Linked DNA regions of Homo sapiens: regions 1, 3 and 4 are each linked to region 2. The links come from fine-mapping of genetic effects on gene expression. A gene starts in region 2. Each other region holds a variant in brackets. All regions are shown on one strand. Distances are from middle to middle.

The links.
Region 1: its variant is fine-mapped to the expression of PTDSS2 in lung (GTEx, PIP above 0.99).
Region 3: its variant is fine-mapped to the expression of PTDSS2 in whole blood (TOPMed, PIP above 0.99).
Region 4: its variant is fine-mapped to the expression of PTDSS2 in cerebellum (GTEx, PIP above 0.99).

What each region holds. Positions count from the first base shown.
Region 1 is chr11:484,165-492,264 of GRCh38, reverse strand. It overlaps PTDSS2 (phosphatidylserine synthase 2), which reads right to left. Exons shown (of 12, transcript NM_030783.3): 5 at 5,192-5,326; 6 at 4,795-4,845; 7 at 3,953-4,066; 8 at 3,618-3,736; 9 at 2,751-2,865; 10 at 2,532-2,677; 11 at 2,197-2,382; 12 at 866-1,845. The coding sequence ends at 1,683. Among named protein-coding and RNA genes, the nearest start is that of RNH1, 19 kb to the left of the region's middle. RefSeq lists a silencer at 4,257-4,397 and an enhancer at 7,407-7,928. The variant G/C (reference allele first, on the strand shown) is at 4,166.
Region 2 is chr11:446,430-454,529 of GRCh38, reverse strand. PTDSS2 (phosphatidylserine synthase 2) reads right to left here and starts at 4,251. Exons shown (of 12, transcript NM_030783.3): 1 at 3,893-4,251. The coding sequence starts at 4,074. RefSeq lists silencers at 3,567-3,656, 3,667-3,726, 3,917-4,156, 5,784-6,093, 6,184-6,473 and enhancers at 4,187-4,466, 4,065-4,751, 6,484-6,623.
Region 3 is chr11:507,698-515,797 of GRCh38, reverse strand. It overlaps a transcript of LRRC56 not described here. Among named protein-coding and RNA genes, the nearest start is that of RNH1, 4.5 kb to the right of the region's middle. The variant T/C (reference allele first, on the strand shown) is at 3,543.
Region 4 is chr11:525,138-533,220 of GRCh38, reverse strand. It overlaps HRAS (HRas proto-oncogene, GTPase), which reads left to right. Exons shown (of 6, transcript NM_005343.4): 5 at 466-590; 6 at 699-979. The coding sequence ends at 585. It also overlaps a transcript of LRRC56 not described here. Among named protein-coding and RNA genes, the nearest start is that of HRAS, 6.4 kb to the left of the region's middle. RefSeq lists an enhancer at 4,179-4,716. The variant G/A (reference allele first, on the strand shown) is at 4,457.

The DNA.
Region 1 (8,100 bases), 38 kb before region 2:
CTACTTGGGAGGCTGAGGCAGAATTACTTGAACCTAGGAGGCAGAGGTTGCAGTGAGCCAAGATCACGCCACTGCACTCCAGCCTGGCTGACAGAGTGAGACTCCATCTCAAAAAAATAGTGGCTCAAGCTGGGCATGGTGGCTCACGCCTGTAATCCCAGCTCTCAGGGAGGCAGAGGCAGGAGGATCACTTGAACCCAGGAGTTCGAGATCTGCCTGGGCAATATAGCGAGACCCCGTTCTCCACAAAAAGGAAGGAAAGAAAAAGAAAAAAAAACATAAAAATAGTGGCCCGAGAAGGCGGCTGCCCCTCCCCAGGAATCCTGTGTCCACTGCCCAGTGTCTGCCAGCCTGGGACAAACACAGCACCCCAGGAATCCTGTGTCCACTGCCCAGTGTCTGCCAGCCTGGGACAAACACAGCACCCCAGGAATCCTGTGTCCACTGCCCAGTGTCTGCCAGCCTGGGACAAACACAGCACCCCAGGAATCCTGTGTCCACTGCCCAGTGTCTGCCAGCCTGGGACAAACACAGCACCCCAGGAATCCTGTGTCCACTGCCCAGTGTCTGCCAGCCTGGGACAAACACAGTACCCCAGGAATCCTGTGTCCACTGCCCAGTGGCCGCCAGCCCTTGGACAAGCGCAGCAGAGGGTGGGTGCCACCTGGACCCTCCTGGAGAATGGGAGAGGGGCTGCATCTGGCACCTGCTCTCTCTGGGGGGTGGGGCGGGGCAGGCGCCAAGTCTTTGCTCAGGTGCAGAGGCTGAGTGCCTCCTGTCCTCTGTGTGGTTTTCCCCAAGTGGGCACTGGGCATGAGGGCAGGCTGGAGGGCTGCACTGGACCCCAAAGCAGGACACGGGGAGCTGGGGGGAGGGCTGGAAGCCTCAGACGTTCGTTGTCACTTTATTGGTTCTCTTTGCTCGTGAAGATGACCCTCACCTTGGAGCCACGGAGGCAGCATGACCCCAGCACCCGGGTTCCAGGCCCCCTTGAGGGGCAGCTCAGTGATCTCTGACCCCATCATCCACGTGTCCTCCGGGGTGGTCTGTGTGAAAGGAAGGCTCGGAGGAGGTGGCTCAGCATCGCTGCCTGGATCCGCTGCCTCTCAGCCACGGAGTGTTTGTGGACGAGCGCCCACACGAGCTGCGGGGGAAGTGGATGTGGAGCCAGTGTAGACGCCTCCAGGCCTCAGCGCACCCAGGGCCCACGGAGTGCAGAAAGGGTACCGAGATGTCCCTGCCTGGACCACACCATGGCTGGGTGACAGGGAGCTTGGTGGGCCAGAGGCCACGGGGCTGACCAGGCAGAAAGGGGAGGGAGGACCCTGGTTCCTGAGGGACACACTGCCCCAGAGCATGCCCTTGCCACGCCAGCCAGCTCCCAGCTCTGGAGAAGCCTCGGAGCCCAGAGCACACGTGCACACCACAGGCGGCCACGCATGTGTACACACGCGCGTACACACGCGTACACACACGCATACACACGTACACACGTGTACACATGGAGATGAGGCTGTGCTGGGGCCTCCTCCACCCCTCGCCTTCAGCCTCGCCAGGTGCACAGGAGAAAAGCAAAAAACCTTGAGGGCAAGGCCGGGCACGTGGCTCCTGGTGGGACTCACACAGGAGGAGGCCACGGAGGCCTGGGCTCTGGGAGGCTCACGAGGCAGCCACGGCCCAGGTCAGTTTGGAGTTGGTGCTCCCTCGCCCTCGGCCACCCCAGGCCCCAGCAGGTCTTCGTCCAGCCCCAGTGGGTGCTGGTCCCCGTTGCCGACGGTGCTGCCCTGGTCATCCTTGTTCTGCCACTTCTGCCACCGGGTCTCCTTGTACCTCAATGTGATGTCCCTGGGGAGCGGGATGCAGCGTCACCACCTGCCCCCACACCAGCCCCACTGCAGGCCCCATGGACAGCTGGCACCTAGTCCCTGTGGAGGTCCGGAATGGACTGGGTGGGTGCCGGGTACCCTGGCCCTGGGACGGCAGCCGTGGCAGACTGGAGCCCTGAGGAGCCTGGATCTGTCAGTGCAGAGCGAAGGCCCCGAGGGCTGGGTCAGGAAAGGCGCCTCCCGCAGAGGCGGCCAGAGGGTTGAAGCAGGGACAGTGAGACACCAACGACACCAAACTCCCACAGTGCCTGTGCCAAGGGACCCGGACAGCGGCCCTCCTTCAGAACATACGCGCCCTGCCCTGACTCACCGCAGGAAGAAGCGCCAGACGGTCCAGGTGAGCGCCAGGACGGAGCCGAGGGTCCAGCACTGGGAGATGTAGAAGGGCAGGGACAGGGTGAGCGTGTGGGGGTCGTACTTCACCACGATGAGCAGCTCCGTGGCCGTGATGGCCGCCACCAGCCAGGCCTGCGGGCCCAGCTTCTTGTGGGGCTTCCTGCAGGGGCAGCAGGGGGTTCAGCGTCCCGGGCCCCGCAGGGTCCTCCAGGCGGACTTGCCCAGGCTCCGGCCTCCCAGGCTCTGCTCCCCAGCCCTCCGGCCCCTGCCCCCCGGGGGTGTCTCCACCCGGACTGCCGCAGCCCTCACGGGTCATCCATGAAGTCGTAGATCTCACGCATGGCCACGCCACCCACGTTCACGAAGAAGACGAGCCGCAGGAGGACCAGGTAGTGCTCCGGGGGCATCCACAGCACAAACTTCAGGTAGAACGTGTTCAGTTCTGCCAACAGGAACTAGGGGAGGAGAGGGTGAGCACCAGCTCTGGCCCCCCGCCCGCCGCGCCGTCGCGAGGCAGCCCGGCCTTACCACCAGGATGATGCCGCACACGGCCAGCCAGCGACGCAGGCTGGAGGCCGGCTTCCACTCGAAGCGAACCCAGCTGTACGGCGTGAACTGGAAGGCGATCCTCTTCATCTTGCCCCTGGGAACCACAGAGCCGGCAGCCTGAGGAAGGCAGCCCACCGAACCCTGCCCTGTGCCATCGGGCAACAGACTGTTCCTGGTCACCCGGCCCCGCCCTGTGCCATCGGACGAGCTCTGCTCTTGGTCACCCCGCCCCGCCCTGTGCCATCGGGCCACAGACTCTGTTCCTGGTTACCCAGCTGCTGCCCGGCTGTTCTCCGAGGTCTGGCCACCCAGCTACAAGCCCTGCTTCTCCACGGCCCTCTGCTGTTCAGTCTCTTCCAGCTTGAGCAGTGGCTGCAGCGCCTCAGAGGGCGCTCCACGGTGCCGTGAGCTAGCCATGTCTGCAGAGCCAGGCAGAGCCGGGGCACCCACAGGCAGGAGGGGAGACCCCCGTCCCCCAGGCCTTTCCTTAGACTTCTGTTTCTTTTTTAAATTCCAAAGTCATAATGACAAAGTACCTGCAACTATTTCATAACCAAAGCAACCAAGGGAGGGAGAAGCACGGAATGATCCCACAGCCCCTGCGCCAGGCCGGCCAGGGATTGAGGAGGGAGGTACGTGGGTCAGACGCCATGGCCACTGTGAGGGGCGGCCGGGCTTGAGTGACACCAGGTCAGAGGGAGGTTCCAGGAGGCAAAGCCCCACGGTCACCCCTCCTGAGCCGCACACTGGACGGGCCTGGTGCTCGGGGTCTGCTGGAGCACGGACGCTGAGGCTGCCTCCAGGTAACCCCCACCCGGCCCTGCCCTCGCAGCCCCCACGACGTACTTGTAGGTCGGAATGTTCCAGAGGCCCTGCCACTTGTACGTCTTCAGGGACAGCCACTCAAGGGTCTTCATGCCGCAGTAGATGCCCAGCCCGTTGCAGACGAGCACGTCCATGATCCACTGCAGGGAGGGGCCAGCACTCGTTGCAGGGGTGAGGGGTAACGAGCCCCCCGAGGAGGACCCCGGAAGAGCACAGGGGAACCGAGAATGCCCCTCAGCCTGCACCCACTGCCCCCCGGGGAGAATGAGGGGGTCCAGGGGCCGCGCTGGGCACAGGGGTTCCGAGAATGCCCCTCAGCCTGCACCGACTGCCCCGGGGGCTGTGCTGGCACCTACGTGATCCCACCAGCACTCGCTGAAGTTGGGCAGCTGGTGCTCCAGGCTGTACTCCAGGAACTCGAACATCACGCTGATGATCATGCACATCCACCAGTCTCGGATCATCAGGGTCTGTGGGCGCCAGGGTCAGCCAGAGTATGGGACGCCGGCCACACCCGGCCCTGCCCACGGGTGCGTGCAGCCCCCACCCCGGCTGGCAGCCAGAGTATG[G/C]GACGCCGGCCACGCCCGGCCCTGCCCACGGGTGCGTGCAGCCCCCACCCGGCTGGCAGCCAGAGTATGGGACGCAGGCCACGCCCGGCCCTGCCCACGGGTGCGTGCAGCCCCCACCCCGGCTGGCAGCATTCTTGGAGTCGACAGCACTGGCAGGGCCCCCAGTGAGGTCTCAGGGTGAGCGTGGGGTGGGTGGCTGCCCCTCCAGCAGCCTCGATGTACGACTGTCAGCAAACAAGGCAGCATCCCCGTGCCCGGGGCCTGACACCAAACTCTGCCAGGGTGGGCTGCAGGGTCAAGCAGGCACTGCTCTTAGCCCCATAGGTAGCACAGGGTCCCTCAGAAGTGGGATGGGGCAGTGCCCAAGCCCAGGCAGGGGCGGGACTTCCTGCCCTGCCGCCTCTTTCCACCGCCCCGACCCTGAGGACGGAGCGGGGACCCGACCAGGATCAGGGCTTCTGGGAGGTCCGGGAGCCCCACGGCTTCTCGAACCTCTGGGTGGCTGCAGTGCGACACCCTCCCACCACACTCAGAGCACCCTGAGCTCAACTCCATGGACAGAAACGGTCCAGAGCCCACGGCAGGCCTCAGAACCGGGGCGGGGAGGCCGGGAAGAGGAGGTGCCGTACCTTCAGGTACCAGCCAAGAAAGTGCGCGGGAACAAAGCCATCCAACTTGTCCTGTGGGCGACAGGGTATGACCCTTGACCCTGGGGCACAGCCACCCCCACTCCCCACACCGGCAGATCAGCCCACACCTGAGCAGCACCTGCCAGACCCCGGGAAGAAGGCCAGGGACTCACAGGTGCTGCCGTGGCCTGTGGAGACCACGTCCACGACAGCCTAGAGAGCAGGGGCCCCCTGCCCACCATGAGCACCATCCAGACGGACAGGGCCTCAGCACATCTCTGCACCAGGAGACCCCAAGTGTGGGCTGAGGGGTGCGAGGCAGGAGCGTGGATGGCGCCTGGTCCGGCACGGGGCCACACCTGGGGAGGGGCTCGCCTCAGGGCCCCCGGCGTCTTACCCAGATGTTGTGAAAGGGGTCAGTCTCATTGTCTGGGTCGTAGATGAGGCAGTTTCCCCCGTAGTCTCTCTCTGGCAGTGGGACTCCCAGCTTGGGGTCAACATACTTTAGAAACTGCCGGCCGTCCTGGACAGTCTGCAAGGCCAGTGCCCCCGTCAGCGGGGCTACAGTTAGTGGTGGCAACTTGAAACGGGAGATCATGGTTGTTTATTTATTTTATTTTTTTGAGATGGAGTCTCGCTCTGTCGCCCAGGCTGGAATGCAGTGGCGTGAACTGGGCTCACTGCAAGCTCCGCCTCCTGGGTTCACGCCATTCTCCTGCCTCAGCCTCCCGAGTAGCTGGGACTACAGGCGCCCGCCACCACGCCCGGCTAGTATTTTTTTTTTGTATTTTTAGTAGAGACGGGGTTTCACCGTGCTAGCCAGGATGGTCTTGATCTCCTGACCTCGTGATCCGCCCACTTCGGCCTCCCAAAGAGCTGGGATTACAGCCGTGAGCCACCACGCCCGGCCAGGAGATCATGGTTGTAAACTGCATCTCAGTCACCCTGGAGGAGGGCAGCGCCCTGTCTCAGCAGCCCTCCCCACCCCAGGGAAATCCTGGTGGGGCAGCGCGTGGGGAAGGAACCCCCAGGCACGACACCCCATCTCCACACCTGCGCTCCCCGGGGCCAGGTGGGCACAGGTGCGCTTCAGGACATGGGGGTCTAGGACCGCTGGACAGACGGGAGCGGGATGGGGCCCTGAGTTACTGCGGCGCGCCGCCCCCACCCCGACCCCTCCCCGCATGCGCGCTCAGGCCAACACCCTCACAGGAGTCGCCCTTGTGGAACCTGCTCTTTCCTCACCCAGACGCTGGCATCAGCCAGATACACCTCTTGACCTTAGGGCAAGGCAGGCTTTTGGGCCTGACGTCAAGGGAGGTTTACATCATTTACAGACACCTGTGCTCACAGCACACACGCACCAGGGCACCAGCTGTGTTTACACTCGCCTGCGCACACGGTGAACACACACGCCCGTGCACTGTTTACACTCGCCTGCGCACACGGTGAGCACGCGCGCCCGTGCACTGCTTACGCTCGCCTGCGCGCACGGTGAGCACACGCGCGCCCGTGCACTGTTTACGCTCGCCTGCGCGCACGGTGAGCACACGCGCGCCCGTGCACTGTTTACGCTCGCCTGCGCGCACGGTGAGCACACGCGCGCCCGTGCACTGTTTACGCTCGCCTGCGCGCACGGTGAGCACACGCGCGCCCGTGCACTGTTTACGCTCGCCTGCGCGCACGGTGAGCACACGCGCGCCCGTGCACTGTTTACGCTCGCCTGCGCAGTGAGCACACGCGCCCGTGCAGTTTACACTCGCCTGCGCAGTGAGCACACACGCGCCCGTGCGCTGTTTAAACTCGCCTGCGCACAGTGAGCACACACGCGCCCGTGCACTGTTTACACTCGCCTGCGCAGTGAGCACACGCGCCCGTGCAGTTTACACGCCTGCGCACACGGTGAGCACACGCGCCCGTGCACTGTTTACACTCGCCTGCGCACACGGTGAGCACACGCGCCTGTGCAGTTTACACTCGCCTGCACAGTGAGCACACACACCCGTGCACTGTTTACACTCGCCTGCGCACACGGTGAGCACACACGCGTCCGTGCACTGTTTACGGTCGCCTGCACACACACAGCACACATGCCCATGCACTGTTTACAGACGCCTGCGCAGTGAGCACACACGCGCTCGTGCACTTACACTCGCCTGCGCACACAGTGAGCACACACGCGCCCGTGCACTGTTTAAACTCGCCTGCGCAGTGAGCACACACGCGCCCGTGCAGTTTACACTCGCCTGCGCACAGTGAGCACACACGCGCCTGTGCAGTTTACACTCGCCTGCGCAGTGAGCACACACGCCCGTGCACTTACACTCGCCTGCGCACACAGTGAGCACACGCGCCCGTGCACTGTTTACACTCGCCTGTGCACAGTAAGCACACGTGCCCGTGCAGTTTACACTCGCCTGCGCACACAGTGAGCACACACGCGCCCGTGCACTGTTTACGCTCGCCTGCGCAGTGAGCACACGTGCCCGTGCAGTTTACGCTCGCCTGCGCACACAGTGAGCACACACGCGCCCGTGCAGTTTACACTCGCCTGCGCAGTGAGCACACACACGCCCGTGCACTGTTTACAGACGCCTGCGCACAGTGAGCACACGCACCCGTGCACTGTTTACACTCGCCTGCGCACACGGTGAGCACACGCGCCCGTGCAGTTTACACTCGCCTGCGCACAGCACACACACCCGTGCACTTACACTCGCCTGCGCACACGGTGAGCACACGCATCCGTGCACTGTTTACGCTCGCCTGCACACACACAGCACACACGCCCGTGCAGTTTACAGACGCCTGTGCACACAGTGAGCACACATGCCCATGCACTGTTTACAGATGCCTGCGCAGTGAGCACACACGCCCATGCACTATTTACAGATGCCTGCGCAGTGAGCACACACGCGCCCGTGCACTGTTTACACTCTCCTGCGCACACAGCACACACGCACCCCTGCACTGGCTGTGTTTACAGACGCCTGCACACACAGTGAGTGCACACATGCCCGTCCTCTGTGAGCTATGGCACCCAGGACCACGCAGCCCACCCAACACCCAGGCCTCAGTTCCTAATATTCAGTAAGGACCCAAGGCTCTTGGAGAAGGGGCTGATTCCAGGACCAGGGTGGGGAGTGGACAGGAGGAGCCTGGAGCATCCCGCAGTGCTAGGAAGTCAGGATGTCCTCAGAAAAACAAAACGAAAAGCCAAGAACTCCGTGAGGGTGTGTGAAAGCAATACAGGAACCACGTGGAAATTCCTTTTGGCAAAAGAATTTGGGCACCACGATAAATAGA
Region 2 (8,100 bases):
TTTAATACGACTTTCCACGACAGAGACCTTCCTGTGGTTTCTAAAGTGGCCACCAACCCAACACTCACTCCTTGTGTAGCCCAGGGAAACGCTGATCATTGATCAACCCTAACCCAACACCATCTTTCCATTTCCCCAAAACACAGAGATTACCTGAAATATAAAGGTAACCCTTCGCCCCTTCAGGTAAATGTGCACACTGTCATTGAGGTGGCCACCGAGTGCCCAGCACCCTCCTGGCCCTGGGGAAGCAGAAATGGGAATGAAGAGGACCCAACAGGAAGGGAGGCAGAGGGTAAGGGACCCAGAGAAAGGGCACCAGGCACAGCAGCCCTGCAGGAGGACACATCTCAGAGCTGCTCAAATCCAACGCTCCTGGAAAGTAAGGTCCGTATTAGTGAGCTCCAGTCCTTGTCCTACACGCAGCACGACGTCTACACATCTTGGAAGTGACAGAGTGCCGCTCAAGATAGCATGAGACTCTCAAGGGAAGAATTCCGTGTCCCTCCCAGGACGCCAGGTCTGTTCAATGGCTCCTCCCACCCGCCTGCAGACTCTGCAGGACGGTGTATGTCCTGTGATCAGACACAGAACAGAGCTGTGATCAATCCTGGCAATTCAGCCACTTCACTAGGGTGAGGGCGTGAAGACAGCTGGCTCCCTGCCATGGGGAGTGGAAAAGACCCAGCTGCCTCCTTGGAGATGGTCACTCTCATGTCCACTCTCATGGTGGGCAGGGAGGCCGAGACCAAGAGGAAAACGCGGCGTCGTCGTCCAAAGGGCCAAGGAAAGGCCACGCCTGGATGGGCAGCCCAAGGCCTGCGAGAGGCTCCTGGACCGGGCACTGGCCCTTCTGGCTCTGACCAGCAAGACCAGAAAGACTTCATCTGGCTACTCGCGCCTCCCAGGTGTAGGCAAAGCTGGGAAAGCCCCGATCCAGGATGATGGAGAAAGGCATCTTCCAGAAACCTGGGGTATCTGAAGGTCAGAGGTCACCTCACACATAAAGTCCTCAGGTCACTGAGAAGGCTCATTTGAGGCACCCCATTCCAAGACACAAGCATACAATAAAAACTCTCAGAACATCACAGTGGCCCCCAGCTCGGGAACTGGTTAGCAAGTGTGGTCATCCGAAGCTGCTTCAGCGTCTCCCACAGACAGGCGGCAACGTTCACAGGCACCTCGCCAGGGTAAGGGGTCCCCAAGTGTTCTCCCAAACAATTTCCAGACCGCATGAGCTGCCACATCTTCGCACAGGGCTTCTCGGAGTCTGTGGATCTAAACGTTTTCCTCTGGATGTTCCCCATAATTGTCCTTGCTACCCTGAATGAATCCAGAGAAGGAGAGCTCAGCCTCGTGCTCCCAGGGCCAGTCAAGCCCTGAATCGAACCGCACGCCCTATCCCTATGGCTGACAAGCAGTCACAGAGAAACAAAATTCACACATGGCCGCCGTCACTGGCCCGAGGAAGTGCACCCATCCTTGAAAATGAACGCCCTGGCTGGATGTGGTGGTGCATGCCTGTAATCTCAGCAATCTGGGAGGCTGAGGCGGAAGGATCACTTGAGGCCAGGAGTTGAAGACCAGCCTGGGCAACACAGGGGGACCCTCTATTAAAAATAAATAAATAAATAAAAATGAATAAAAAATAAAAAGTAAAACTCTCTAAAACACAAAATTAGAGTTAAAAAAATGCCAGCACAGCAAGTCAGTGCAGGTGGACTCAGGAGGTCAGTGTGAGGCTCTGCAGGTAATGAATTCTCACCAGGCAGGCATTGAGTTACCTGCCACCCAGAAGCGTGAAGCTCCTTCCTCTGCACAGGGAAGGGAGGAGGCACAGCAAGAACCTGCCCCATGCGTCTCTACAGGGACAGGGTCGAGGGGAAAGCCAGAGCCAGAGCCACCCACCCAGAAGACCCAGGAAGGAGGTACCTGGACCAGCCAGCCCCGCTGCACCCGCTCCTGGAGAGCCCTCCTGACCCCCTTGGCCTCCTGACAGGCAAGCTCTGCTGCGCCCAGCCGTCTGTGTCCCAAACACCCCTTGTGGGCAGGGACCACTGGTCTGGGCTTCTAAAGAGACCGGCCCCCTCCTACCTTTGGGCTGCTGCTCCTGCTTCCCTGGTACTGGGTGGGCTGCGCAGGCTTGCATGTGCCCCCTGGCTCCTGCCACACTCAGCACCCAGCCAGCACATTTTGAGCCTTCTGAAGTTCCATGCCTGCACCAGAATCTAAGCTTCTTGTTTAGTTCTCTGCTATGTCCCGTAGAACGGTAACTGACAGGCAGTAGGGGTCCCCACAATGTGCTGAACGGCCAAATGAGAAACAAGAAGAGCCAGTCTGGTCTCCTCGCTCCGGGACCTCAGAGGAGCCCGTCTGTTCTCCTTGCTCCGGGATGTCAGAGGAGCCCGTCTGGTCTTCTTGCTCCGGGACCTCAGAAGAGCCAGTCTGGTCTCCTTGCTCCAGGACCTCAGAGACTCCGGTGGTCCCCAGCTGTGCTGCGGGAGGACAGCCTGAAGGGGTGTGGCAGGGCACCTGATGGAGAGGCCTGATGTCCACAGGGCCCGGAAGCCAGAGGGTCCACGTGGCAGGCACCCCATCTCCTCTCCCTCCCGAGGGCCCCGCAGCCACCCGGTACACTCATCTCCCCAAAGGAGAGCTCGGATGCCCTCCCTGCAACAGCAGCTGCCCACACCTCACGGAAGACCCTGCGTGGGGCCTCCTCCACCCTAACCTGCTTTCCCACCACTTGGACAGTCTCTCTCCAGAGCTTCGGCTGCGGTGACAGGCCAGGACCGGTTAAGTCCCTGTCTGTGGTGGCGCCTTCCCCTGACAAGTCCCTTACTCCTCCATCAGGCCCTCCTCGCCCCTCAGATTTGCTCTCCGACCATCCCACAGCATGGTTCTCTTGGAAGCGTCCATAAAGCCTTCCTTCCACTGCTGGCCGCAGGCGCCTGTCTCCCACACGTTTTCCTGGGGCTGACCCCACCTCTACTGCCCCTGTGCCCCCGGGCCTTCCACAGGATGGGAACTGGGCACCTTGCAGTCAAGAAGAGCCAAACCCTCCTCTCACGAAGCCTGCTTTCAGGTCGACGGCTTGATCCTTCTCACAGAGGAGCATCGGCAAAGGGCCAGCCCAGGGTCGCAGCTGTCGGGAGTAGGAGCGGCACCTGGAGCCTGTCTGGACACAGAGTGCCACACTCCAGCTGCTCCCGGGGGCCTCTTCCTTTTCCACCCCCATTAAAGGCAGAGTGGCGGACAGGGGGACCCCAAGGTGTAGCTAGGGCTGAGTTGTGCAGGGAGGAGGCGCTGGCCCCGCTAGGGGCAACTGAGGAGAGAAACAGAGCCTGGATTCGACGAACACCGACTACATTCCTGAAGCACGCACAACACTCTGCTAATCAACACGATCGCCACGTGGGGTCGGGCGCGACACACAAGATGATTTCGTGCAGCCGCAAGCACTGAGGAGCAACCACAGGCAGAATGACGGGGGACACAGGTGAAGCTTCGACAGCAGGACAGAGAAAGCGTTTCTGGGGTGACGCTGGAGGCGGGTGGCGGGGAAGGGGTCTGGATCGCAGAACCGCGCGGTCAGAGCCAAGGCGGGCAGGGGTGGGGAGGGCGGCGAGAGAGACGCAAAGCGGCCGCAGGGAGGGTCTGCCCAGGGTCTCCCCCACCTACAGCGCCGCCCTCCGCCCGACCCGGCGTCGGGAGCTCGGTCCGGCCGCTCCCCGGGACCCGGGGGGCGGTGCTGCCACACCCTCAAACCCCCGGCCACAGTCCTGGACTCCAAGACGGCGAGAGGGCGCTGCCGGGGACCCCCAGGCCAGCGGTGCCGGAACCCCCAGGTCGAGGGCACCCTCGCCGCCCCGCGGCCGCCCACTGCCCTCACCAGAAGAAGGTGTTGGTGCCGTCGTCGTAGACCTCGGACTCGGTGCTGCGGCGGCCCTCGCCCGGCCCGGTGGCTTGGCCGGCAGACGGCCCGTCAGGCGGCTCCTCCAGCGAGGCCCTGCCCGCGGGCACCGGGGACTCGGGCCGCGGACCTCCGGCGTCCCTGCGCTCGCCCCTCCGCATGGCGTTTCGGCCCGGAGCCACTCCGCCCGGCGCCTCGACCCCACGCACACCGGGTCACCGGCGAGAGGACGCGCCGCACACAGCGCGAGGAGCGCTGGGAAGGGGTCGCGGCGCTGGCCCGCGGGGTCTTAGGAGAGCAGCGCGGGGCCGGCCAGTAAAGGGTGTGCGGTGCATTGTGGGGCTTGTAGTCCGCGCGGGGCATGCTGGGCCTTGTGGTCCGACGTCGCGGGTTGGACGCAGTGCTTGCTGGGAAGGATGACGCCTGGTTGCTGGGAAACCGGAGCCGGACCGCCCTGCGGCTGAGGTCGCAGGAACCAAGCTGCGGATGGCGCGGGTCTCGCCAAGGCCTCCAGAGCTTGGAGGTAACCACAGACATCCCCGGCGGCCTGGCCCGAGTCCCTCCACCCCTTCGCCCCTTCCTCGCCGACGGATCCCGGAGCCCAGCCCCGTTCTCCTTTTGGGGCGCTTCCCGACCCTTCACCCCATGCGACCCGGGTCATTCCTTTTTGAGACGGAGTCTCGCACTGCCGCCCGAGCTGGAGTGCAATGGCGCGATCCCGGCTCACTGCAACCTCCGCCTCTCGGATTCAAACGATTCTTCTGTCTCAAGCTTCCCGAGTAGCTGGGATTACAGGCGGCCGCCATCACGCCCGGCTAATTTTTGTATTTTTAGTAGAGACGGGGTTTCACTATGTTGGCCAGGCCAATCTCGAACTCCTGACCTTGTGATCTGCCGCCTCGGCCTCCCAAAGTGCTGGGATTACAGGCGCGAGCCACCGCGCCCGGACCGGTCTGGGTCATTCTTTCGCAGGATCGCGTGAAATTGGGCGGGCGAAAATGGTGCGGACACGCTGATTTTAGTTGACCCAAATTGTTGACATGGTACCCTGCAAAAAAATTAGCTCCTGAGCCACTCTGAAAAGCAATGTGGCAGCTCCTCAAACCTGGAAACAAGTGTCCACGCCAAATTTACACACTAGCGCTCCTAGTTGCAGCATTTTGATAATAGCGGCATGTTATTAGCCATAGAGGAGCGAAGCATGCGCATGCTACAGCACAGCTGGACCTTGAAAACATTATGCTAGGCAGGCCGGGCGCGGCGGCGCACGCCTGTCATCCCAGCACTTTGGGAGGCCAAGGCGGGCGGATGACTTGAGGTCAGGAGTTCGAGACCAGCCTAGGCAAAGTGGTGACACCCCATCTTTACTAAAAATACAAAAATTGCCCTGGCATTGTGGCGGGCGCTTGTAATCCTAGCTACTCGGGAGGCTGAGGTGGGAGAATCCCTTAAATCCGGGAGGTGGAGGTTGCAGTGAGCCGAGATTGTGCCACTGCACTCCATCCTGGGCGACAGAGCGAGACTCCGTCTCAAAAAAAAAAAAAAAAATGCTAGGTGAAAGAAGCCAGTCACAGGAGACTACGCATTATGTGATCCATTTGTATGAAATGTCCAGGAAATGCAAATCTATGAAGACAGAAATTAGATGAGTTTTCACCGGGGGCTGGGGAAGGGGTAATAAGGAGCGACTACAAAGGGTAGCAGGTTTCTTTCGGGGCGATGAAAGTGCTGTAATATTGACCTCAGCTCCTATCTGTGAATGTCCTAAAAACCACTCAACTGTCCACTCGAAACGAGTTGAATGGGTGAACTGCATGATATGTGAAGTATATCTCATATCAGCTTTATTGAAATATAACTCACATACTAAATATATAAACATATTTGCGGGGCTCCTGCACAGCCACGCCCAGCAGGGATGGGGCCTGACTGTGATGGGACCTTCACCCCAGCTCCTGACACACAGGCTGGGCAGTGCGGGAGGCGCTGGCTCCAGGGGGCGTGCTGTTGGGCCTCCCCAGGCCTGGCCCCCTGCCCCAGGCCCTGGCCGCGTCCAGCTGGGGTCGGCTGAGTGGCCAGAGCAGCCAGCTCCCGTCCATGCCATCTTTCCAGCAATCACCCGACAGGCCTGGTTCCCTGTGAACCATCCTTCAGGTCCCCTCCCAGACCTCTTCCCATCCCAGCAGGTGGCGCTCACATTCCAGGCGCCCTCTCGGTGGCGTTGGGGTCATTTCCTGCGTATGGGTGTTCTCTCAAACTGCACAGAGAGCCCTCCTGCCGTCCCTCCAGGGTGCAGAGGCCGGGGCGGGGAGATGTACCGGCCCCACTGGGGTCCCTGGCCCCAAGGAAGCTGCGCGCGAGGCCGCCTCGCAATGACGCTCGTTCCTGTCGGCTCGGGGGCGGGGCCCAAGGGCGCGTGAGGGGCGGGGCCGAGGACATGGTCTGTGGGCGGGGCCTGAGGGCGGGGCCTTGGGACCCGGAGTAGCGTGATCTAGACCGCGCGGCCCCGCCAGACCGCGCGGCCCCGGGCGCGCAGACCACGTGTTCGTTGCCCATCACTACGGAGCTCTGGCCACGTGCCAAGTAGAATTCCCAACGCTTTGTAAATGCTAACTATTGTGATTTTTTTTTTTTTAAGCGTAGTCTCACTCTGTCACCCAGGCCTGGAGTGCAGTGGCGTGATCTCGGCTCACTGCAACCTCCGCCTCTCGGGTTCAAGCGATTCTCCTGCCTCAGCCTCCGGAGTAGCTGGGATTAAAGGCGCCCGCCATCACGCCCGGCTAATTTTTGTATTTTTAGTAGAGACGGGGTTTCACCAAGTTGGCCAGGCTGGTCTCGAACTCCTGACCTCAGGTGATCCACCCACCTTGGCCTCCCAAAATGCTGGGATTACAGGCGTGAGCCACCGCGCCGGGCCAACTATTGTGATCTTAACACACCCCCTTAGGTTCTATTTTTGACTGTCGCTTAGAGACAAAAAAACTGTGGCAGAGAAGGCCGGGCGCGGTGGCTCAAGCCTGTAATCCCAGCACATTGGGAGGCCGAGGCGGGTGGATCACAAGGTCAGGAGATCGAGACCATCCTGGCTAACACGGTGAAAGCCCATCTCTACTAAAAATACAAAAAATTACCCGGGCGTGGTGGCGGGCGCCTGTAGTCCCAGCTGCTCGGGAGGCTAAGGCAGGAGAATGGTGTGAACCTGGGAGGCAGAGCTTGCAGTGAGCTGAGATCACGCCACTGCACTCCAGCCTGGGTGACAGAGCAAGACTCCGTCTCAAAAAAAAAAAAAAAAAAAAAAAAAGAAACAAACAAAAAAAAAACTGAGGCAGAGAAAGGTTGGTGACAGCTACGCCCAGCTCTTTCCAGACCCCAGAGCCTCTACCCTGAACCCCTGCACTCTACAGGGAGCTCTCCACCTGCAGTTTTGCACCTGGCGTCTCATATCTGAGTCTCACATTACCCTGTCCCTGTCTTCACCCCAGCTGCAGAAGTGCACACCCCTCCCCACCCAGGCATGTGTGGACTGGCAGAGTCCATTGCAAGACGTGGGCCTGAGGGGCAGGGGTGAGGCCGGAGGTTTGTGGCTCAGGGAGCACCGTGGCTGGTGAGGAGGCAGTGGAGCAGCTTGGAGGACTTGGTTCTTTGAGGCCCCAGAGCAGCAGAACTGGGGGTCCCCCGCCTGGGGAAGGGTGCACGGGACAGAAGCCTTCCTCAGCTGCAGAGATGCCTGCCAGAAGCCTCAGGGCGCTGGAACTTTTAAGAAAATGGTCAATTCTGGCCTTACCCAGGGACAGAGCTGGCCAGAGTCACATTTATGGTGGTAAATAGTGAATGTTGGCGAAATGCTTTCTAAAAATGCCCTTGCAAGGAAGGGAGAGGAAGCCTAGGAATTTGTAAAGTAACAAATGCCTGTTGTAATATTTCCCCTGGTGCGGTAAATCCATAAAGGTGAGTGGATTACAGAAAAACTCACCGTGCCACACGCACACCTGTGCCCGGGAGTTTTCTCTGGCTTGTTGGAGGGAGCGTGGACAGCAGGACTGCTCCCCAAGTCAAGATGGTTAAGGCCTGGAGGTGTTGGGGAGGCAGCAAGGAGACAGAGTTGTCCCTGCAATGAGGACGGGAGGGGTTTGGGTCCCCACCCCAATGCCACCCTGGTGTGGCAGGCAAGGATGGCTTCAGGTGGT
Region 3 (8,100 bases), 61 kb before region 2:
GGCACAATCTTGACTCACTGCAACCTCTGTCTCCCAGGTTCAAGTGATTCTCCTGCCTCAGCCTCTGGAGTAGCTGGGATTACAGGTGCCCGCCACCACACCTGGCTACTTTTTGTATTTTTAGTAGAGACGGGGTTTCACCATGTTGGCCAGGCTTGTGTCAAACTCCTGACCTCTGGTGATCCACCCGCCTTGGCCTCTCAAAGTGCCAGGATTACAGGTGTGAGCACTGTGCCTGGCCTCAGAACTTATTATAAGCCAAAATGTAAGGCCTACAACTGTAAAATGTGCGTTAAGAATGAAAAGGAGGATGTCAGTGTGACTTGGGTTAGAGAAATGATTCTTAAACACTAAAAGCATGACACATAAAGGAAAACCTGATCCACTGGACATCATGAGAATGAAGGGTGTGTGCATTTTGAAAGGCCCTGAGAAGACAAGCCCAGGCTGGCAGAGGCATTAGCAAATATCCCGTCTGAGGAAGGACTCATCTGCAGCATCTATGACAAGCTCCCAGGAGTCATGGGGTGCTGTGCTCTCGGCAGATATGGGAGAGCCTCCCATCCCATCATTCGTGTCTCCGGAGCAGCACTGCTCAAAGTCCCCTACCAATGCCCTCCTCAGCCGACAGACCTGACCCTCCCCACATGTGCACCCACAGGCCAGGCCTTGTGGGTCTTCTTGGGACATGACCCCAACTTCAGGAGGAGGAAAGTAAGAAGAGGAAAATCAATGAAAAGAAAAAAGAATTTACTGGTGGCCCTTTCAAGTCTTTCTGTCAAACGGCCCAATTTCAGGTTCAGCCAGGCAGTGGTGACAAGGCAGCCCTGTGTTCTGCCCAGTTCCAAGGGCTCCACCGCCTCTGTGGGTGAGAAGCAGCAACCAGCCGGGGAGAAAACCATCTAGCTGCGTCAACCTCGGTAGTGCTGGAAGTTAGCACAGGCGGGCCTGGGTTACCACGGTTCAGTTCTAGACACCGCAATAACACAAATGTCGCAATAAAGCCAGTCGGAGGGATTTTTCGGTTTTCCACTGCATATAAAAGTTATGTTTATACCACAGTGCAGTCAGGTGTGCAATAACATTATGTTTACAAAACAATGCATATGCCTCAATTTAAAATACTTTATTGACCACTCCTCACTCCCTCCCCAACTGGGCTCCCACCACCCTACCCTCCCTCAAGACCAAAAAAACAATAAATAATAATAATAATAGGCTGGGCACAGTGGCTCACACCTGTAATCCCAGCACTTTGGGAGGTCAAGTGGGCAGATTGCATGAGCTCAGGAGACCAGCCTGGGCAACATGGTGAAACCCTGTCTCTACCAAAAATACAAAAAATTAGCCGGGTGTGGGGGTGTGCACCTGTGGTCCCAGCTACTAGGGAGACAGAGGTGGGAGGATTGCTTCAGCCTGGGAGGCAGAGGTTGCCGTGAGCCGAGATAATGTCACTGCACTCTAGTCTGGGCAACAAAGCAAGACCTCGTCTCAAAAAAAAAATGGCTGGGGGTGGTGGCTCACACCTGTAATCCTAGCACTGTGGGAGGCCAAGGTGGGCGGATCACCTGAGGCCAGGAGTTCGAGACCAGCCTGGCCAACATGGTGAAACCCCGTCTCTACTAAAAATGGAAAAAAATCAGCCGGGTGTGGTGGTGCGTGCTTGTAGTCCCAGCTCCTCCGGAGGCTAAGGTAAGAGAATCGCTTGAACCTGGGAGGCGGAGGTTGCAGTGAGCCGAGATGGTGCCACTACATTCCAGCCTGGGCAAGAGAGTGAGACTCTGTCTCAAAAATTAAAAAACAAACAAACAAAAAACTAAGATACTGATAGAAAGTGCCAGCAATCACCTGAGGCTTGAGGAAGTTGGGATCTCTTTGCTGGTGGAAGGTCTTGTTTGTGGCTGCTGACTGATCAGGGTGGTGGTGGCTGAAGGCTGAGGTGGCTGTGGCAATTTCTTCCTTTTTTTTTTTTTTTTTGAGATGGAGTTTTGCTCTTATGCCCAGCTGGAGTTCAATGGCGTGATCTCGGCTCACTGCAACCTCTGCCTCCTGGGTTCAAGTGATTCTCCACCACACCCGGCCAGCAATTTCTTAAAATAAGACAACAATAAAGCTGGCCACATTGAGCTTCTTCCTTTCACAAAAGATTTCTCCGTAGCACGCGATGCTGTTTGGTAGCATTTTGTCCACAGCAGACCTTCTCTCACAACTGGAAAATCCTCTCGAACCCTATCGCTGCTGTACCAACGAAGTTTATGGAATATTCTAAATCCTTTGTTATCTCAGCAATGTTTAGAGCATCTTCACCAGGCGCAGATTCCATCTCGAGAAAGCACTTTTGCTGGGTGCGGTGGCTCACACCTGTAATCCCAGCACCTCGGGACACTGAGGCGGACGGCGGGCAGATCACTTGAGGCCAGGAGTTCGGGACCAGCCTCGCCAACATGGTGAAACCCTGTCTCTAATACAATACAAAAATTAGCCGGGCATGGTGGCGTGTGCCTGTAATCCCAGCTACTCGGGTGGCTGAGGCAGAATTGCTTGAACCCAGGAGGCAGAGGTTGCAGTGAGCCGAGATTGCGCCACTGCGCTCCAGCCTGCGTGATATTCAAACTGGAAGAGCAGAGCGAGACTGTCTCGAAAGAAAAACAAAACAAAACAGCTTGAAGCGGCAGGGTTACAGCTCTGCGACGGCCCCTGCAGGCGGGGTGTGCTGGGCAGAGTGTGCTGAGAGCAGCAGCTCAGGACAGTTCTGCAGCCACATTTACACCCACTTTTAATTTCATGTAGATTAAGGGGCAGCCCAGGCAAAAGTTTCTAGGGAAGGGGTAGTAACTTTTGGGTCGTGGGGTCATTGCCATGGAAAGGGGTAGTAACTCCCACCATGCCTGGCCTGTTTACTTTCACTTCCAGCTTGCCCTTGAATTGTTTCCTGGGCAAAGCCAGGAACCCTCGAGGGGCTCAGCCCCACTGTGGGTCTTGCCTGCCCTCCATCAACTAGAAGGCGACGTAGCATTGAGTTAATCCACCATTACTTTAAATGGCATGGATACCACTCATATAGTATTGAGAAAAGGAAGTCAGATACAAAAGAGAACATGCAATATAATTCCATTTATATAAAGTTCAAAATAGGCAAAGTTAGTATGAGGGCTAGAAGAGTGGTGATTTTAAACCTCCGGGCCTTTGTACACGCTGTTCCATCTACCAAGGGTGCCCTTTCCTCGCACCATGTAAACGCAAACGTATGGATCAAGTTACCTCCTTGCCAGGCGCGGTGGCTCAGTGTCATCCCAGCACTTTGGGAAGCCGAGGCAGGCAGATCATTTGAGGTCAGGAGTTTGAGACCAGCCTGGCCACCACGGTGAAACCTCATCTCTACTAAAAATACAAAAAATTAGCCAAGTGTGGTGGCGGGCACCTGTGATCCCAGCTACTCAGGAGGCCGAGGCGGAGAACTGCTTGAACTGGGATGCAGAGGTTGCAGTGAGCTGAGATCATGCCACTGCACTCCAGCCTGGGCGACAGAGCGAGACTCCATC[T/C]CAAAAATGAAAACAAAAAGGCTTTGTGGCTCACACCTATAATCCCAGCACTTTGGGAGGCCAGGGCAGGCAGATAACGAGGTCAAGAGATTGAGACCAGCCTGTCCAACGTGGTGAAACACTGTCTCTACCAAAAATACAAAAATTAGCTGGGTGTGGTGGCACGCACCTGTAGTCCCAGCTACTCGGGAGGCTGAGGCGGAAGAATCACTTGAGGCCAGGAGGCGGAGGTTGCAGTGAGCCGAGATCACGCCACTGCACTCCTGACTGGGTGACAAAGTAAGACTCCATCTCAAAAAAAAAAAAATTCGCCTCCTAACCTCACTGAGTTAACTGATCAAGACCTCTCATGCTCTGCCGCTGCACAGCTGTCCCTCCAGCGCCTTGTCTGTGTGTGTGGGGGGTGGCTGGTGTTTTGAATATCTTCCGGTTCCCAGAGGCTAGCTCAGTGTCTGACAGGGCCCTGTGGGAGTGTCTAATTCTCACAGCATCTCCGTGCAGGAGGGAAGGAGAGGGTCACGCCTGGGCCCTGAGGCATCTTGTATCTGAGGCCCCCACATCAGCACGGATCTCCAGAGGCATATACTGTCCTGCCGACTGGTCTGCTTTCTGTCTGATTGAAATTGGAGGCTCAAAGCCAAGACCTTCTCACTTGCAGTGAAGAACCCTTATGGGGCAAAGTTTTCCCCTCAACCTGCTCTATCATGAGCTCCTCCTGCTAAGTGGCAGAGCTTAGCCCGTGAATCAGAGGATACGCTACATTTCAAACCTTAGGAGCAGTCCTGTCACCAAAATTCAGCTGGTCATTGTCAGTTTAACTACCCACTACGTAACCACTCACGTATGAACCTGCAACAGCCACCAATCAAGTTGAATTCTCAAATATTTGCTACTTCATCCTCAATGTTTTCCCATTTCTTTTTTTTTTTTTTTTTGAGACGGAGTCTAGCTCTGTCGCCCAGGCTGGAGTGCAGTGGCGCGATCTTGGCTCACTGCAAGCTCCGCCTCCCGGGTTCACGCCATTCTCCTGCCTCAGCCTCCCAAGTAGCTGGGACTACAGGCGCCCGCCACCACGCCCGGCTAATTTTTTGTATTTTTAGTAGAGACGCGGTTTTACCGTGTTAGCCAGGATGGTCTCGATCTCCTGACCTTGTGATCCGCCCGCCTCGGCCTCCCAAAGTGCTGGGATGACAGGTGTGAGCCACCGTGCCGGGCCAGTGTTTTCCCATTTCACGTGCTGCGTGTGAAAATCCACTGCGTGCGACACTTGCGCTATGTGCACTTTATGTACACATCTCATACTTTGTTAAAAAGGCACTTTCAGACAAACATATTATTTATTTATTTAGAGACATGGTTCACTCTGTCACCCAGGCTGGAGTGCAGTGGTGTGGTCTCTGCTCACCGCAACCTCCACCTTCTGGGTTCAAGTGATTCTCCTGCCTCAGCCTCCCAAGTAGCTGGGATTACAGGTGCAGGCCACCACGCCCAGCTCATTTTTTTGTATTTTTTTTTTGAGATGGAGTTTTGCTTTTTGTTGCCCAGGCTGGAGTGCAATGGCGTGATCTCGGCTCACCAGAACCTCTGCCTCCTGGGTTCAAGCGATTCTTATGCCTCAGTCTCCCGAGTAGCTGGGATTACAGGCATGTGCCACCATGCCTGGCTAATTTTTGTATTATTAGTAGAGACGGGGTTTCTCCATGTTGGTCAGGCTGGTCTTGAACTCCCGACCGCAAATGATCTGCCTGCCTTGGCCTCCCAACATGCTGGGATTACAGGTGTGAGCCACTGTGCCCAGCCATTTTTTTGTATTTTTAGTAGAGATGGGGTTTCACCATGTTGGCCAGGCTAGTCTTGAACTCCTGACCTCAAATGATCCGCCTGCCTCGGCCTCCCAACGTGCTGGGATTACAGGCGTGAGCCACCGTGCCTGACCTGAGTATATTTATAGAAGTAGAACAGGCACAGGACTCTCCACCCAAAGTCACCCTGGTGCCTCTCTCCCCGGGGTCTGACTTAGGCCTTCAGCACCACGGTGTTTTCTCTAGATGGCATCTCATGAACACTGGGGGTCTCTTGCCTCAGCCTGTCCCTGGATTCCCTTTCATGGGGAATGTAAAAGCTCCCTATTTAAGCTAACGTGTAGGCTGGTGGGGCTGGATGTGAGGGAGGGGCAGGTGGAGAAGGAAAGGGCAGCATCCCTCAGATCTGTGTGGAGCAGGATCGGAAGGAAAGGCACACTCGAGTCGGCCAGGACCCGGGGAAATGAGCGAGAATGGTCAGCTCTGGGGCGGTATATAAAACTGGGGGTGGGAATACTTCCATATACTCCCAATTCCACAGTGGGTGAACTGAGTAAGTTTAAAAATAAGATAAAGACATAACGAGGTGAGGCAGGTAAGTTCAAAAATAAAAATGAAGGCCAGGCACTTTGGGAGGTTGAGGCGGGCGAATCACAAGGTCAGGAGCTCGAGACCATCCTGGCTAACACGCTGAAACCCTGTCTCTATTAAAATTACAAAAAAAAAAAAAAAAAAAAAATTAGCCGGGCGTGGTGGCAGGTGCCTGTAGTCCCAGCTACTCGGGAGGCTGAGGCAGGAGAATGGCTTGAACCTGGGAGGCGGAGCTTACAGTGAGCCGAGATCGCGCCACTGCACTCCAGCCTGGGCGACAGAGCGAGACTCCATCTCAATAAAATAAAATAAAAATGAAGACATACCTTTCAGGGGCTGTGGCCGCACTGTCCAGGAGGGAGGCCCGGCCACAGACACCATGCTGGCCGTGCGCTCAGCACCTATACATACCTGGGCACCTTCCCCACAAGGTGTCACAAAAGGGAGCCCAACAGCCATTTTAAACATTTTCTTCACTCTTATGAGAATTGCCACGAACAAATCTAAGAGATCATGGCAAAGAAAAGAATGAAATGAAACCAGAACATTTCAGCAGCTTTTGCAAAGATGTCAAGAGAACCAGTCCAGGAGTCAGACTGGCGGCATCCTTCCAGCTTCTTGTCATGAATTCTAAACCTCACATCCAGACTCCAAAGCTTAGAGAGTTAAAGAATCAGCTACTGGTCACCAAGCTCACGTGTGCAGGATGAGGGTCACAGCCAGGTTGGCTGCCTTCCAGCCCTGAGCTTTCTTGGGGGTGTGTGTGTGTGTGTGTGAACCACCTTCTTTTTGAGACGGAGTTTCTTTTTTCTTTTTTGAGATGGAGTTTCGCTCTTGTTGCCCAGGCTGGAGTACAGTGGCACGATCTTGGCTCACTGCAACCTCTGCCTCCTGGGTTCAAGTGGTTCTCCTGCCTCAGCCTCCTGAGTAGCTGGGATTACAGGCATGCACCACCATGCCTGGCTAAGTTTTTGTAATTTTAGTAGAGATGGGGTTTCATCATCTTGGCCAGGCTGGTCTTGAACTCCTGACCTCAGGTGATCTGCCTGCCTTGGCCTCCCAAAGTGTTGGAATTACAGGTGTGAGCCACCGCGCCCAGCCAGAGTTTCATCTTGTTGCCCGAACTGGAGTGCAATGGTGTGGTCTAGGCTCGCTGCAACCTCTGCTTCCCGTGTTCAAGCGATTCTCCTGCCTCAGCCTCCCAAGTAGCTGGAATTACAGGTGCCCACCACCATGCCTGGCTAATTTTTGTATTTTTAGTAGAGATGGGGTTTCACCACGTTGGCCAGGCTGGTCTTGAACTCCTGACCTCAGGTGATCCACCCTTCTCGGTCTCCCAAAGTGTTGGGGTTACAGGTGTGAGCCACCACGCCCGGCCAGAACCACCTTCTTTAAAGATGATCAGGCCGGGTGTAGTGGCTTATGCCAGTAATTCCAGCGATATGGGAGGCTGAAGCAGGAGGATCACTTGAGCCCAATTCAAGACCAGGCTGGGCAACACAGGGAGACCTCTTCTCTACATAAAATACAACAATTAGCCAGGCGTGCTGGCGCCTGTGGTACCAGCTACTTGGGAGGCTGAGGCGGGAGGATCACTGGAGTCCGGGAGGTGGAGGCTGCAGCGAGCTGGGATCGCGCCACTGCAGTACAGCCTAAGCAGTGGAGTGAGACCCTGTCTCGAAAACAAATACCTAATAAAGGCAGTCAGAGGAGAGGTTTAGCAAATTGCTAAAGAACAAATCTGAGATACCGTTAGTTTCCTTACTTGCAATCTTCATCTGCCAAAATGTCAATTCTGTGAATTGCGGACTAGTCAAAAACTTAAAGAAAACCCACTTTTGTGGAGGTGGGGTCGCTTTGCGTTTCCCAGGCTGGTCTGGAACTCGGCCTGCGCCCCTCAGTGCCAGGGCTCCAGGCGACGCTCGGGTGTCGGCAGCAGAGTGGACGCAGGAGCAGCTCGGACCGCGCTCAGAACACTCGGGACGAGGCCGCGGCTCCGCAGGCCTTGCGGGCTGGGGTCCCACGAAACAAAGGCGGCAGCCAGTGGCCAGGACGGGCAGCGTGGTTCACGGGGCCGTGGCTCCCTCGGGGGTCGCGAGCTCGGCGCAAACGAGCCCCTCTACCAAGGTCGCCTAGAGTCGCGACCCCGACATGCGGAGCCGCCC
Region 4 (8,083 bases), 79 kb before region 2:
ACGCCCTGCAGTCCTGGGCCGACACAGCTCCGGGGAAGGCGGAGGTCCTTGGGGAGAGCTGCCCTGAGCCAGGCCGGAGCGGTGACCCTGGGGCCCGGCCCCTCTTGTCCCCAGAGTGTCCCACGGGCACCTGTTGGTTCTGAGTCTTAGTGGGGCTACTGGGGACACGGGCCGTAGCTGAGTCGAGAGCTGGGTGCAGGGTGGTCAAACCCTGGCCAGACCTGGAGTTCAGGAGGGCCCCGGGCCACCCTGACCTTTGAGGGGCTGCTGTAGCATGATGCGGGTGGCCCTGGGCACTTCGAGATGGCCAGAGTCCAGCTTCCCGTGTGTGTGGTGGGCCTGGGGAAGTGGCTGGTGGAGTCGGGAGCTTCGGGCCAGGCAAGGCTTGATCCCACAGCAGGGAGCCCCTCACCCAGGCAGGCGGCCACAGGCCGGTCCCTCCTGATCCCATCCCTCCTTTCCCAGGGAGTGGAGGATGCCTTCTACACGTTGGTGCGTGAGATCCGGCAGCACAAGCTGCGGAAGCTGAACCCTCCTGATGAGAGTGGCCCCGGCTGCATGAGCTGCAAGTGTGTGCTCTCCTGACGCAGGTGAGGGGGACTCCCAGGGCGGCCGCCACGCCCACCGGATGACCCCGGCTCCCCGCCCCTGCCGGTCTCCTGGCCTGCGGTCAGCAGCCTCCCTTGTGCCCCGCCCAGCACAAGCTCAGGACATGGAGGTGCCGGATGCAGGAAGGAGGTGCAGACGGAAGGAGGAGGAAGGAAGGACGGAAGCAAGGAAGGAAGGAAGGGCTGCTGGAGCCCAGTCACCCCGGGACCGTGGGCCGAGGTGACTGCAGACCCTCCCAGGGAGGCTGTGCACAGACTGTCTTGAACATCCCAAATGCCACCGGAACCCCAGCCCTTAGCTCCCCTCCCAGGCCTCTGTGGGCCCTTGTCGGGCACAGATGGGATCACAGTAAATTATTGGATGGTCTTGATCTTGGTTTTCGGCTGAGGGTGGGACACGGTGCGCGTGTGGCCTGGCATGAGGTATGTCGGAACCTCAGGCCTGTCCAGCCCTGGGCTCTCCATAGCCTTTGGGAGGGGGAGGTTGGGAGAGGCCGGTCAGGGGTCTGGGCTGTGGTGCTCTCTCCTCCCGCCTGCCCCAGTGTCCACGGCTTCTGGCAGAGAGCTCTGGACAAGCAGGCAGATCATAAGGACAGAGAGCTTACTGTGCTTCTACCAACTAGGAGGGCGTCCTGGTCCTCCAGAGGGAGGTGGTTTCAGGGGTTGGGGATCTGTGCCGGTGGCTCTGGTCTCTGCTGGGAGCCTTCTTGGCGGTGAGAGGCATCACCTTTCCTGACTTGCTCCCAGCGTGAAATGCACCTGCCAAGAATGGCAGACATAGGGACCCCGCCTCCTGGGCCTTCACATGCCCAGTTTTCTTCGGCTCTGTGGCCTGAAGCGGTCTGTGGACCTTGGAAGTAGGGCTCCAGCACCGACTGGCCTCAGGCCTCTGCCTCATTGGTGGTCGGGTAGCGGCCAGTAGGGCGTGGGAGCCTGGCCATCCCTGCCTCCTGGAGTGGACGAGGTTGGCAGCTGGTCCGTCTGCTCCTGCCCCACTCTCCCCCGCCCCTGCCCTCACCCTACCCTTGCCCCACGCCTGCCTCATGGCTGGTTGCTCTTGGAGCCTGGTAGTGTCACTGGCTCAGCCTTGCTGGGTATACACAGGCTCTGCCACCCACTCTGCTCCAAGGGGCTTGCCCTGCCTTGGGCCAAGTTCTAGGTCTGGCCACAGCCACAGACAGCTCAGTCCCCTGTGTGGTCATCCTGGCTTCTGCTGGGGGCCCACAGCGCCCCTGGTGCCCCTCCCCTCCCAGGGCCCGGGTTGAGGCTGGGCCAGGCCCCTCTGGGACGGGGACTTGTGCCCTGTCAGGGTTCCCTATCCCTGAGGTTGGGGGAGAGCTAGCAGGGCATGCCGCTGGCTGGCCAGGGCTGCAGGGACACTCCCCCTTTTGTCCAGGGAATACCACACTCGCCCTTCTCTCCAGCGAACACCACACTCGCCCTTCTCTCCAGGGGACGCCACACTCCCCCTTCTGTCCAGGGGACGCCACACTCCCCCTTCTCTCCAGGGGACGCCACACTCGCCCTTCTCTCCAGGGGACGCCACACTCGCCCTTCTCTCCAGGGGACGCCACACTCCCCCTTCTGTCCAGGGGACGCCACACTCGCCCTTCTCTCCAGGGGACGCCACACTGGCCCTTCTCTCCAGGGGACGCCACACTCCCCCTTCTGTCCAGGGGACGCCACACTCCCCCTTCTCTCCAGGGGACGCCACACTCCCCCTTCTCTCCAGGGGACGCCACACTGGCCCTTCTCTCCAGGGGACGCCACACTCCCCCTTCTGTCCAGGGGACGCCACACTCGCCCTTCTCTCCAGGGGACGCCACACTCGCCCTTCTCTCCAGGGGACGCCACACTCCCCCTTCTCTCCAGGGGACGCCACACTCCCCCTTCTCTCCAGGGGACGCCACACTCCCCCTTCTCTCCAGGGGACGCCACACTCCCCCTTCTGTCCAGGGGACGCCACACTCGCCCTTCTCTCCAGGGGACGCCACACTCCCCCTTCTCTCCAGGGGACGCCACACTCCCCCTTCTCTCCAGGGGACGCCACACTCCCCCTTCTGTCCAGGGGACGCCACACTCGCCCTTCTCTCCAGGGGACGCCACACTCGCCCTTCTCTCCAGGGGACGCCACACTCGCCCTTCTCTCCAGGGGACGCCACACTTGCCCTTCTGTCCAGGGAATGCCACACTCCCCCTTCTCCCCAGCAGCCTCCGAGTGACCAGCTTCCCCATCGATAGACTTCCCGAGGCCAGGAGCCCTCTAGGGCTGCCGGGTGCCACCCTGGCTCCTTCCACACCGTGCTGGTCACTGCCTGCTGGGGGCGTCAGATGCAGGTGACCCTGTGCAGGAGGTATCTCTGGACCTGCCTCTTGGTCATTACGGGGCTGGGCAGGGCCTGGTATCAGGGCCCCGCTGGGGTTGCAGGGCTGGGCCTGTGCTGTGGTCCTGGGGTGTCCAGGACAGACGTGGAGGGGTCAGGGCCCAGCACCCCTGCTCCATGCTGAACTGTGGGAAGCATCCAGGTCCCTGGGTGGCTTCAACAGGAGTTCCAGCACGGGAACCACTGGACAACCTGGGGTGTGTCCTGATCTGGGGACAGGCCAGCCACACCCCGAGTCCTAGGGACTCCAGAGAGCAGCCCACTGCCCTGGGCTCCACGGAAGCCCCCTCATGCCGCTAGGCCTTGGCCTCGGGGACAGCCCAGCTAGGCCAGTGTGTGGCAGGACCAGGCCCCCATGTGGGAGCTGACCCCTTGGGATTCTGGAGCTGTGCTGATGGGCAGGGGAGAGCCAGCTCCTCCCCTTGAGGGAGGGTCTTGATGCCTGGGGTTACCCGCAGAGGCCTGGGTGCCGGGACGCTCCCCGGTTTGGCTGAAAGGAAAGCAGATGTGGTCAGCTTCTCCACTGAGCCCATCTGGTCTTCCCGGGGCTGGGCCCCATAGATCTGGGTCCCTGTGTGGCCCCCCTGGTCTGATGCCGAGGATACCCCTGCAAACTGCCAATCCCAGAGGACAAGACTGGGAAGTCCCTGCAGGGAGAGCCCATCCCCGCACCCTGACCCACAAGAGGGACTCCTGCTGCCCACCAGGCATCCCTCCAGGGATCCCTCATTGTCCACAACTGCTGGAGAACAGAGGGCTCCGTGTCTGGCTGTCCCACAGTGAGCAGCAGTGAGCGCATCTGAAGTCTGAGCTGCTGAGACCCCCTCCTGCAGGAACCCATCTTCTGGCAAAAACCTGAACTGAGGATCACCCTCTGCCCACACCCACAGGGGCCCATCCTGGTGGCTCCTCCAGTGCCAGGCTCTGCCCCATCAGGGTCTGGGGTCTCAGCCAGATTTGTGTCCAGGGCAGGGAGGCTGCAGAGGTTAGGTTGGGTCCAGCACAGGACAGGGCTGGAGAGCACAGCCAAGGAAGGTCGGGTCCGTCTCCTCCCCTCTGACCTCGGACGTCTCGCCTGTCAAATGGCGTGAGTTCGTATCCACCCCACGGGGTCGCCGTGAGGTGAACGAGACAGTCATTTTCATAGTCCGTGTGGAACAGGCACCCGCTGAGTGCTCAGGGATGGCCCTTGGCAGCCACGTGGAGGCCAGCGCAGGCCACCTGTTAGTGACTGTCACCATACCATGGGGGAGGGCAGCTGTGTTGAGACCCACCTCTCACCTCCGGACGCAGAGCCCCCCCTCGGACACCCACTGTGTCTCCAACTGCTCCGCACACAGCCGGCACTTGGCACCGGTGACGTCATGGGGTGGCTGCACACATCACAATAGGGCCCCGCGCAGGTCAGCTGGGCCTGGAGTCAGCGTCCTCCACCCCCTGAACTGGCAGCATGTGTGTGCACGT[G/A]TATGTGGGTGAACGTGTGCGTGTGTGTGTTTCTTCTCCAGCTAGGCCTGGCTGCCCCACTAACGTGCACACAGGTCCTTGTCACTGTCACCCCCGTGGCTCGAGACGATCGTCAGAGCACCCGCGGAGGCACCACACTCGGCCCTCTCCACCCGGGGTGGTCCTGGGGATGCAGACGCGGGGAGGGGGTTGGCCCCCTTCCTCGGTGGACTCAGGTCTTCTGTAAAGGGCTGGGTTCAGTGTCCCTCTGTCTCACCTTCTTGAGCCCTGCTGGGTGTCATGAATGTCCCCCCTTGCTGGAGGCCCTGCGGACAAGCCCCCCTGCCTGAGGTCCCCTAGCAGCCAGCTGACCAGGTCCCACTGATTGACAGGCCCTGCTGGGCTGCCGAGGGGGTGGAGGAAGCCTGTGGGGAGGTGGGGGACTCACCTGTGTGACGTCAGCTTCTGTCCCGGGCGCCGCCTGCCCGTCGGATCACATCCCTGCTCAGGACTCGCCACCAGCTGCCTCCTTACGATGGAGTGATGGAGCCCTCTGATAGCTGAGAGTCCGCCACAGCGATCCCACAAGGCCACGCGTAAACTCTCCCAACATCCATCCAGGGAGGCCTGGATAAAAATGTAGAGTTTCAGGCCGGGCACGGTGGCTCAAGCCTGTAATCCCAGCACTTTGGGAGGCTGAGGCGGGTGGATCACCTGAGGTCAGGAGTTCAAGACCAGCCTGGCCAACACGGTGAAACCCTGTTTCTATTAAAAATACAAAAATTGGCCGGGTGCGGTGGCTCACGCCTGTAATCCCAGCCCTTGGGAGGCCGAGGCGGGCGGATCACCTGAGGTCAGGAGTTCGGGACTAGCCTGACCGACATGGAGAAACCCTGTCTCTACTAAAAAAATACAAAATTAGCCGGGTGTGGTGGTGGATGACTGTAATCCCAGCTACTTGGGAGGCTGAGGCAGGAGAATCGATTGAACCCAGTGGGTGGAGGTTGCGGTGAGCCGAGATCGCGGAATTGCACTCCAGCCTGGGCAACAAGAGCGAAACTCTGTCTCAAAAAAAAAAAAAAAAAAATTAGCCGGGCGTGGTGGCGGGCGCCTGTAATCCCAGCTACTCGGGAGGCTGAGGCAGGAGAATGGCGTGAACCTGGGAGGCAGAGCTTGCAGTGAGCCAAGATAGCGCCACTGCACTCCAGCCTGGGGGACAGAGCAAGACTCCGTCTCAAAAAAACCAAAACTAAACAAAACCCTTACCCTATCGTTTTGCCAAGTGCATGACTCTCTGCTGTGAGGCAGTCAAACTCAGAAGCAGAAAGTAGGGTGGCCGTGGGCAGGGGCTGGGGAGGGGAGCTGGGAGTTGCTGTTCAACTGATAACAGATTTCAGTCTGGGAAGATGCGTGAGTCCCAGAGTTCACTGCGCAAGGTGCTCGTGGTTAGCACAGTGCCACACGGCACGTTGCAAATTTTTTTTTTTGAGATGGAGTCTTGATGTTGGCCAGGCTGGCATGCAGTGGCGCGATCTCAGCTCACTGCAACCTCTACCTCCTGGGTTCAAGTGATTCTCCTGCCTCAGCCTCCTGAGTAGCTGGGATTACAGGTGCCCGCCACCACACCCGGCTAATTTTTTTGTATTTTTGTAGAGACGGGGTTTCACCGTGTTAGCCAGGATGGTCTGGAGCTCCTGACCTCATGATCTGCCCGCCTCGGCCTCCCAAAGTGCTGGGATTACAGGCGTGAGCCACCGCACCTGGCCAGTCCCAAAATTTCTAACATTAGAAGATTGGTGTGTGTGCCTGTGCATTTTTGCTGAACAATATTTCTTTTTTTTTCTTTTTTTAGACGGTGTCTCGCTCTGTCGCCCAGGCTGGAGTGCAGTGGCGTGATCTTGGCTCACTGCAACCTCCGCCTCCCAGGTTCAAGCAATTCTCCTGTCTCAGCCTCCCCAGTAGCTGGGACTACTGGTGCCCACCACCATGCCTGGCTAATTTTTGTATTTTTAGTAGAGACGGGGTTTTGCCATGTTGGCCAGGCTGGTCTCCAACTCCTGACCTCAGGTGATCCACCCACCTGGGCCTCCCAAAGTGCTGGGATTACAGGCATGAGCCACCGTGCCCGGCCACTGAGCAGTATTTCTTTGTAGGGATGTAGCACAGGTTGTTCACCTGCTAAAGAATATTTAGTTTGCTGCCAGATCTTGCCTGTTACGACTGGAGCCTCCTCCATAGGCATTTGTGTACCGTGCCCCCCGAGGACGTAGACTTTCAGTTTGTTAGGGGAGACACTGGGGGCGGGGTTGCTGGGTCCTGTGGTATGTGCCTGACTCTGCACCTGACTGTCCAGCGTGCCGGGCCCCTTGCCTTCTCAGCCGGGATGCATCGGAGTCCTGTCGCCCGTGATTTTCATCTTGGGCGTGTTGCGGGATCTCGTTATGGTTTCAGTTTGCAGTTGGCTGGTGGCCACAGCCTGGACGTCTCCTTAGCGCTGTGTGCCTGCTGCAGGTCCCCTTTGCTGAAGTTTTTGTTCAAGTCTTCATCTTATTTTTAGTTTTGTTTTTATTTTATTACTTTTGAGACGGAGTCTCACTGTCGCCCAGGCTGGAGTGCAGTGGTGCGATCTTGGCTCACTGTAGCCTCCGCCTCACAGTTTCAAGCGATTCTCCTGCCTCAGCCTCCCGAGTAGCTGGGACTACAGGCACCTGCCACCACGCCCGGCTAATTTTTTATACTTTTAGTAGAGACACGGTTTCACCAGGTTGCCCATACTGGTCTTGAACTCCTGACCTCAGGTGATCTGCCTGCCTTGGCCTCCCAAAGGGAAGGATCATGCCGGGATTATAGGTGTGAGCCACCGCGCCTGGCCTATTTATTTATTTGTTGGAGACAGGGTCTGGCTCTGTCCCCCAGGCTGGAGTGTGGTGTGATGGTAGCTCACTGCAGCCTCAACCTGCCTGGCTTAAGTGATCCTTCTGCTTCAGTCTCCCGAGTAGCTAGGACTACAGGCGTGCACCAGCATGCCTGGCTAAATGCTTTTTTAATTTTTCGTACAGACCAGGTCTCACTATGTTGGCCAGGCTGGTCTCAAACTCCTGGCCTCAAGTGATCCTTCTGCCTCAGCCTCTCTAAGTATTCGGATTACAGGCATGAGCCACTTCACCCAGCCCTTTGTTCATTTTGGAAACTGGTTTTTTAATTTGGTTATGTTTTTGAGATTTTTTTTTTTTTCTTTGAGACAGGGTCTCACTCTGTCACCTCTGTCACCCAGGCTGGAGTGCAGTGGCGCGATCTCGGCTCACTGCAAGCTCCGCCTACTGGGTTCACGCCATTCTCCTGCCTCAGCCTCCCGAGTAGCTGGGACTACAGGCGGCCGCCACCACGGCCGGCTAATTTTTTGTGTTTTTAGTAGAGATGGGGCTTCACCGTGTTAGCCAGGATGGTCTCGATCTCCTGACCTCGTGATCCGCCCGCCTTGGCCTCCCAAAGTGCTGGGATTACAGGCGTGAGCCACCGTGCCTGGCCTGATTTTTGTATTTTTAGTAGAGACAGGGTTTCACCATGTTGGCCAGGCTGGTCTCAAACTCCCGACCTCAGGTGATCTGCCCGCCTCGGCCTCCCAAAGTGCTGGGATTACAGGTGTGA